2 separate regions of the Homo sapiens genome follow, and region 1 is linked to region 2. The links come from fine-mapping of genetic effects on gene expression. A gene starts in region 2. The other region holds a variant in brackets. All regions are shown on one strand. Distances are from middle to middle.

Region 1 (4,390 bases), 69 kb before region 2:
GCTAGGAGCAGCCCTTGGAGGTGTTGATAGAAAACATATGCAAGTATCTTACTTTATTCATAAATTGCACCTTTGACTAGTTTTAATGAACCACTATTGGTCACATTTGCCAATTCTAGGGTAGTTGTTACAAAACATATGGTGAAAAATCTGGGCTGTGACGCGGAAAGGTGACCCCTTGGACGCTCACATGGGCAGGTGGTCTTGTCTGGTTTGAGCTCAGTTCAGGACTGAATCTTGAGTTCCTGAAAAACAACTCAGCCAGTACCTTGTGACCCATACTTCACAGTCAGACGTTATATATAGGAACATTGTGCAAACTATGGCTAGGCTACGTGACATTTTAATGGTAAGCACTACAGCGTCAGCAAACAGCTAAGGGTCATAGTTATAAGCTGACTAGAAAAACTTCAGATACTGGCTACCTAATCATTCATAGCTACCAGGCTATTGGTTTCATTAGACATTCTTTCACTCTCAATGAAGGCCCTACAGTTCACAATGTTAAATGTGGTTTTCCTCAGTGAAGTTCCCATGTAATGTAGCCTAGTCATCCAGAGACTTCCCAGAAGCTTGTCAGAAATTAAATGCGGGAGGCACATCTCTTGTTGTCTCCTGTTAGTGCCAGATAACCCCTTTCTGGGGTCACCTAGGGTCTTTCAGTTCTTTTGTGCCCTGAAGTCAGTCTTTGATGTTTGTGGCCTTTGCTCAAAGCCACTGTCTGAGTGAACCCAAGTGTTCCAGATGACACTATAGAAGAACAGGCTCACATAATAAGGCTGTTTCCCATCACCACCTCTGCTACCAATCAACTCAAGCGCTGAATCTCCCCCTGCCATTCCTTTCTCCACTGCTGCAGATTTCCTGGGCTCTGAGAAAAGGAGGAGGATGCAGACTCTGCTCTTCAGATCTACACATTGAACCCCACTATAACCAGTGACCTGAACTCAGAGTCTGAGTAGGGTAAGAACTGCTTTGCTGAGGACCCTCGGGGGATGACTAGGAGCACTGGCAGGAGGCTGATTGAACTTTTATTTTTATTTATTTGTTAGTATTAATTTTTTTTCTTTTTTTAGACAGAGTTTTGCTCTTGTTGCCCAGGCTGGAGTGCAGTGGCACAATCTTGGCTCACTGCAACCGCTGCCTCCCAGGTTCAAACAATTCTCCTGCCTCACCCTCCCTAGTAGCTGGGATTACAGGTGCATGCCACCACGCCCAGGTAATTTTGTATTTTTAGTAGAGATGGGGTTTCACCATGTTGGTCAGGCTGGTCTCGAACTCCTGACCTCAAGTGATCCACCCACCTTGGCCTCCCAAAGTGCTGGGATTACAGGCGTGAGCCACCACGCCCGGCCTAGTATTAATTTTTTGAGATGGAGTCTTGCTTTGTCACCCAGGCTCGAGTGCAGTGGCACTATCTTGGCTCACTACAACCTTCGCCTCCCGAGTTCAAGTGACTCTCCTGCCTCAGCCTCCTGAGTAGCTGGGGTTACAGGCACACGCCACCGTGCCAGGCTAATTTTTTTGTATTTTTAGTAGAGATGGGGTTTCACTACGTTGGCCAAGCTGGTCTCAAACTCCTGACCTCAAGTGATCCACCTGCCTCGGCCTCCCAAAGTGCAGGGATTACAGGTGTGAGCCACTGCCCCCAGCCTGATTGAGCTTTTAGATAGCAAAGAATGGAGAAGGATCCAAATCATGGAAAACTAAGGCCTGAATTCCAGTCAGCCTCATTCCCACTGATACAAGCTTTTCCCTGCCCCTCCCTTCCTTCAC[C/T]CCCAGTCACCTCAACCACAATGCATTAAAGCTGCTTGCATCCTACTCTCCTAACATGTGTAGGTCTTTATCACCAGGACAGGGTTCCACAGATAGGAAGCGCCGACCCTTTGTTCTGTGTCTGAGGTGAGCATTTGACATTGTTAGAAGTGCTCTCGCATACATGCATCTCATTAGACTCTCACAGGTCTGTAGGGAGCTGTTATTAGGCCCTACATCGGTGAGGACACCGATACTCAGAGCTGTGAATCAGGTTAGAGGTTCAGTAGGGCCAGGAACACTCCTCATGGCAAATGAGGACAGAGAGCTTGTTTAAAGAGGTAACTTTTTCAAACAACCATACATCCTAGGCTGTGACCACAGTAGCTCCGGTGGGGACTTTTTTAGTCTTTATGCCTAATTGAGTACAGCTATATTTCTAAACTGGTGTCCTTTTACGATGGCATCGTCAATAAGCAGCTCTGACAAATGAAGATCACTTGTAATAGTGATAATTAGGGGAATGGCCCCTGAGAAGGAATACGGGTAGTTAGTAGTAACCATATGTTCCACCCAGGCTTTGGGAGAAGTGTTATAAGGAAGTCAAGATATTGGAGAAGCATCATTTTGCAGAGTCAGTGTAATTGTAGCCTGGGCTGTGATTTCAGAGAATCAAAGCCTTCCTGCCTAAGAACCACCTGCCTAGTAGTCACTCATCTTCTACACTCGTCTAAAATGTGACAGCCCTGCTCTTTTTGCCTGCTGTCATCCACATAAGATGTAACTTTCTCCTCTTTGCCATCTGCCATGATTGTGAGACCTCCCCAGCCAGATGGAACCAAAGTGGAGTCTCTGGAACCGCCCAGCAGCAGCCTCATTACTCAGAAGATGCTGACGAAGACCCAGACAGGAAGAAAGGAAGCAAAAGCATCCTGACTGGTACATTAGCAAAGGCACATCCCTGGAGAGCAAGGAGAGGGGGAGGGCAGGCAACAGTGCCCATGGCATGCATCTGCAGCTTGTGAGCAATGCATGAAAACAGGAATCAAAAAACAGCATTGCCTCCAGCATCCATGTGTTTATGGCTCTCATGGGGGGCATGATAGAGGAGGATGGATCAGCACTAGCTCTGCAGGCTGCCTAACCTGGAAGTCAGTCTCTGCCTTTAGATCTACTCACTTCTTTTGGGAACGGAAATATCCACGTATCCCTTGTCCTACAACCTCAATTAATGTCTTTGCAACAGCCATCTGTTAAATTCAAGAAGGCCCTGGAACAACTTAATTGGAAAAGTTTCCCTCTTATCCCTTGAAAAACCATAGAAAAGTAATGTCACACGAATGTTGAACTTCTGATTTCTACAATTTCAGATACCAGAGTTTATCTGTTACCATGACAACTAAGAGCTTTATAAATGTTTTCTAGGCTCTGCTTGCTATTTTCTGGAACTTATCTACATTTCAGTATTTGCTTAATAATTTTGAGCTGACACTAGCAACATAATTGTGTCTGGATTGTGTATTTGTTGTGTGTTGGCGGGGGTGGGTATAATTGATGTCTTTGTTTTTCAATATGAGCAATTTTTAATAAACTTTAATATTTAATGTGCAAAAAAAAGTTACAGCCCTTTCCACTTCGCAGACAAAAAGCTTAAAATGCCATTTTCTATTGCATGCGTGACTTCCTGAGAGTTGATCTGATGAAAAGAAGCCAGCTGGAGGGTGATTGGGTGATTCTACCCAGTGCAGGTTGGGTGGATGACAGAGTAGACAGGAGATGTTTGAAATTCTCAAAATGAACTTCATCTATTTTTTTCCAACTTTGTGTTTGGCTCACATAAGATGAAGCATACTTTTAGTTCTTAGAAACTTTATTCTCTTATGAGAATTATCTTCTAATCAGGGAACCAAATAGTAAAATTGTGCTGAGTGCTTGCATTGGCAGGAAACAGAACTTTAAGATAAAGGTCAGCTCTCTGGACATTGTCTACATGATGCTTTTCTTTCTTTTCCCTGTGGACACGCAGGTGTCCCTGGTGACTGAAATGGCATCCTCTCTGAAGATCTGGGGCAGTCCCTTGGCCCTGCTTTGCATTCTTTGCAGGCTACTTGTACACAGCAAGGACGTTTCCTGGAGAGAATTCATGACCCTGCACTATTTAGATCCAAGCCAAGATTTTGAAGAGTACAAATGTGATGTCCTCACGAGAGAAAAAGAAGCTCTGAAACGCAAGAGCTCTCATATGTCCATCTATAGCTTATGGCACAAAATGGAGTGTATATGCATTATTGAAATGGGAATAACCGATATAGATATGCCTATGTATGGGCCCAGGGTGCCCTCAAAGTACTCGAGTGTCAGTGGCAGAAGTACTGCAATAGCTACACAGAGATCTTCAACTACATTGAATTCCACTGTGGCAAGGATGGGTATGTTGATAGCATAGGAGACCTGAGGATGGTGGAGCCTATCAGTAACTAGAAGGTCCATGCACATCCTCAGGGATTGGTATTCAGTGCTTCCCGAGTGGTGGCCCCTGCCTCCATCAATAGCCCCTGACACTCCCCACTTGCACTTATGCATCCGTGTTTTCCAAAACTTAGAATTATGAAACGCATGATTTCTTGATACCATA
Region 2 (4,390 bases):
CAAGCTCTGGGAGAGAGCTACCGCTCCACAGCACTTACTGAGGAGGGGAGCTTTCTTCCTGAGTTAGAGCAATGGCTTCCTGAGTTAGAACAATGGCTTGGAAGTCAGGAAACCTAGGGTGTAGTCCCGGCTGTGCCACTAACTAGCAACAAGCCATGTGCAAGTCACCGGAAAGGCAGGGGTCACATTTGGTCAGGGATGGCAAATGTGTGGCACACACACCCTTCCCCCTCTCGTGCCTTCGATAGAGGCTGTTGTTCAACCACACCACTGTCCAGAATTTTTTGCTACAGCATTTTGGGTAGGCACTTCCTTTTTTTTTTTTTTGAAACAGAGTTTCACTCTTATTGCCCAGGCTGGAGTGAAGTGGCACCATCTCAGCTCACTGCAACCTCCGCCTCCCAGGTTCAAGTGATTCTCCTGCCTCAGCCTCCCTAGTAGCTGGATTACAGGCACCTGCCACCACGCCCCACTACTTTTTGTATTTTTAGTAGAGAGGGGGTTTCACCATACTGGTCAGGCTGGTCTTGAACTCCTGACCTCAGGTGATCCACCTGCCTCAACCTCCCAAAGTGCTGGAATTATAGGTGTGAGCCACCACGCCCGACCGGCACTTCCAATTAGAGTTGGTACACAAACTGAAATCTACTTGCTATCCCTCAATTCCGTGCTCTCCAAAGTCACTTCTGGCTCTAAAATGTAAGGTTCTGGCTTTCCAACTAAGAGGTGCCCATTTTTCTGATTTAGTAATAGCTCACTCAAAAAAAAAAAAGGAAAATGGAAATTTAGGATCATAATTTCATTGAGTCCTCTTCCCCACCCTGAGGCTAAGCAGGATCTTCCTGAGGTCACACTTGCCTTCCTTCTGTGCCAGAGAATGATTGTATTTGAGCTTCACCCCTCTGTCAGTTCACCCTGCATGGCAGTGTCCCAGGCTGTAGCTCCCTTTTGTCTAAAACAGCCCACACTTAACAGTTTTATGTTTGGCATCAGGGAATCTACAAGGAAAGGAATTTTCTCAAGCCACTAAAATCCAAGTCAGAAGGGAAGGCATTTAATTACTCCATTCACCGTTCTCCAAAGTGAATCAGATTTACAGTTCTTACCCCTTGCTGGAAGGCAATGCCAGAAACAGTACCTAGACAGAACCGCTTCAGAAATCAGGTGTTTGCAACTGCGTTTTATTGAAAGAAAGAGTGGAGGGGTTAACATGGGGCCCACCTCACAACCCACTCTTCACCCCCAAAATCACGCAGGGATGGGACTCAGGAAAGGGAAGCATGTGTGTGTTGAATAGGAGCCCTAACTGTAGTTACTTCTTTCACAGCAGGGAAGGAAGAGGGAAGAGGCAGCTGTGGAGAGGATGAGGTTGAGGGAGGTGGGGTATCTCGCTGCTCTGACCTTAGGTAGAGTCCTCCACAGAAGCATCAAAGTGGACTGGCACATATGGGCTCCCTTCACAGGCCACAATGATGTGTCTCTCCTTCGGGCTGGTCCGGTATGCACAGTTGGGGTACCTGGAGCCGTTTGTCAGGCGGCAGTCTGTGATGTGCATGCTGGAGTTGCTCTTGTAGCAGTTGCCCTGCCCGTTCTTGCAGGTGACCTTTTCCTGGAAACAGACATTCTGGACATCTACCAGGGGCTCGTGCACAAAGGTGTTCACTGGTTTGCACCGCCCCTGTGTCATATTCCGGCGCCTCATCATTTGGTTACAGTAGGTGGAGCTGCTGCTGGGGGAACTGTCTGAGTCCATATGCTGCCGCTGGAATTTCTTGGCCCGGGATTCCTTGCCCAGGGAAGGCTGGACCCAGCCCAGCACCAGCAGTATCAGGACAAGCAGAAGGAGCCGGACAAGAGACTTCTCCAGAGCCATGGTGGCCTCACTTTCCCAGAAAAGCCTAATTGAGAAAAGGAGAGAGAAGGAAAAGAGCCCTCTTAGAAAAAGAACTCCAGCTCCCACCTATGGCTTGCCTGGTTTACACTTTCTGTTTCAGGTCAGCCAGAAAGACGTCCATCCTACTTCCTGAGGTTTTTCGTGTAATGAGACACTCACGTGTACCCTTTTCCACGAGCGTTTTATTCCCACTCTCCAAAGCGAGGTCTTCCTCCCCTCTAGGTGGTGACCTACAAAGTGACCTAAAATCCTGTCAGTTCCTATCTTTGAATACTGGAGTTTCTTTGATCCAAAATACATTTGTACCCAGTGCTCAAATGGCTCATCGAAACATCAGTTTGAATAAATCATGAACCAAATTGTATCCCCGACATCCAGGGCCATGGGTGACAGAGCCTTGTTGTCTTGGAGCATAAGGGAACTCAGGCCAGTGCCTGACACTGGCATCATAAAAGATTCCATTGTATTCCAGAGAGAAACGCTGGCCTCCCCCAATTTGGAGGCTCCTTCTTCTCCAGTCCCATGGATGCTCTGCAGCCTGCACGTTCCACCCTGACCCCTCTGCCCCCAGCTGATGTTTGCCTGGGCCACATTTTTTCAGCGCTAGCATCACCCAATCTTTCTCAGTGCTGTGGACTGGCCCTAGCTCCCTCTTCTGCAACCCTGAAGCAGAAGCGGCACCTGAGAACACCTCTTGGGCTGCTTACCTGGATCTGCAGCTTGGTGTCTGAGAGAGATGGAAGGCCAGTTTCTGCAATCACTCAGCTCCCGGGGTGTGGACCTTATACAGATTACAAAGGGGTTTGGCTTCCAAGAGGAAAAGGGTGGGAGGAGCATCTGGAGCTCAGTTCAAATAAAATCAAGGACGTGAGGAAGGAGTGGTGAATCACCCAGGCCGCCGTCTTTCTAGGGCTGCTGAAGAAAGAGCAAATCTTTGCCTACGTTAGTCTTTCTTCCTATGTGAACCACATCTGTCTGCTGATGCACAAGGAGCAGCAGAGAAAGCCACTACAGCACTGGTGCCCAAACCTGGCACACTAGGAACAAAGTCCTTGTTACTTCTTCGTGGGCGTTTTCACCAAGTAGACTTGGAGGTTAACAAAGGACGCAAAGGAGAGGTTCTAATGGGAGATAGGGAATTCTGGCCAAAGCTATTCCAGGGCTCCTAGGGAGCAAAACCCAAGTCTCTTTCTAGGAGGGCATTCTCCCAACGCTACCTCTCCCGGGGATGGGAGGCGGGGTCGGGGGGAATGGAGGCTGTCCTGCTGCCCCCAGCTGGAAGGCTTCCCAGATCTGGAGAAGAAAGGGGGAGTAACTGAATAGGGAGGAGGAGGAGGCCTCTAGGGTGCGCTCACCCAGTTCTGGCCACTTCCCACCCACCCTCCACCCCTGCTCTGGGGGCATCGAGAGGATGGGGCTGTTCTTATCTACAGTAACCACTGACCCTGTAGGTCGGAATTGAGTAGAGGAACTAAAGATAAACTTAAATCCCAAATCTCAAATTCTTTTTGGGGAAAAAATACAAAGAATATCATATTTATTAGCAGCAGAATGCCCTCCTAGAAAGAGACCTGTTTTTTTGCTGAGTAACAATTTGGATACCTCTAAGAATTATCAAAATATCCCTTCGTGCTGTGTATTCAGATTGTTTCAGCCTTTCTGTGTAAAAAGTGGCCATAGTGAAATTATCTGACCTACCTTGTGTGATTGTAGGTCGTAAGATCCTCATTCCAGAGAGGGTCCTGCCCCCCATACCCAGAAAAAAAGGACGAATGCTCAGAGAGGCCAAGAAGAATCTAGACAGGGAGGCCTTGCTGGGTTTCCCCACTCAGTCTATTTTCATTAGATCGCCCTGTTGTCCAGTCATATTTCTACACAGCTGTTCATACTTTGTTGATATCCAAGTGTAAGAATGCCCACTTTCCCCTGTTATCTTTGGGTCTTCTGAAGGCTCCCGTGTCGTGTAAAACTACGATCAAATCAATTTGTATGCGTTTTTTCCTATCAATCTGTCTTTTGTCAGTTGATTTTCAGCAAACCTTTGGAGGGTGAAAGGGGAATTTTTCCTTGGCCCCTACAGTTTCCTTACTCCCCCAGCCCCCACCTGTATTTTATTTTTCTGAGTCTTTAATAATACTTTTATTCTCTTGAATAGTCAAGTTAGAATGTGTTCATTCATTCATTAGACTGTGGGATACAGACATAAATAAGGCACAGGACTCACCTGAAGGGCGCCTGGTGGGATGGTTTGGTTAGTCAGGTGGACCCCACTAAGGCACTGGGCGTGGCTGCACAAAAGTGGCCTCCACCCAGCAAGATGATTTCAGAACCACAGTTCAGATGTGAACAGATCTTCTGTAACTATAATAAGGCTCTTCAACAGCCCCTGGCCCTAGGAATCCTGAAACTACAGGAAGCCATTTTGTCTATTTATGCATAGCAATCTAGACAAGCCCTTGGAGCTTTAATTGCACTTCAATGGGGAACCATCAGAAG

Direction of the effects. Alleles are on the strand shown, and positions count from the first base shown. SD is a standard deviation of normalised expression in the study named.
For the expression in atrial appendage of the gene that starts at base 2,649 in region 2, T is the low allele of the variant in region 1 and C is the other (small effect, 0.17 SD a copy in GTEx).

What was found. PIP is the estimated chance that this variant, and not a neighbour inherited with it, causes the effect. A credible set is the group of variants that fine-mapping cannot tell apart.
Region 1: its variant is the best candidate, but not a certain one, in a credible set for the expression of RNASE1 in atrial appendage (GTEx, PIP 0.52).

The regions. Positions count from the first base shown.
Region 1 is chr14:20,730,779-20,735,168 of GRCh38, forward strand. All of the region lies in intron 2 of LOC107984671 (a long non-coding RNA gene), which reads right to left. It also overlaps the pseudogene EDDM3DP. Among named protein-coding and RNA genes, the nearest start is that of EDDM3A, 13 kb to the right of the region's middle. The variant C/T (reference allele first, on the strand shown) is at 1,777.
Region 2 is chr14:20,800,196-20,804,585 of GRCh38, forward strand. RNASE1 (ribonuclease A family member 1, pancreatic) reads right to left here and starts at 2,649. Exons shown (of 2, transcript NM_002933.5): 1 at 2,602-2,649; 2 at 1,033-1,898. The coding sequence starts at 1,873. The coding sequence ends at 1,403. LOC107984671 (a long non-coding RNA gene) reads right to left here and starts at 334. Exons shown (of 3, transcript XR_001750624.2): 1 at 1-334. The region is part of intron 3 of LOC105370397 (a long non-coding RNA gene); the gene reads left to right.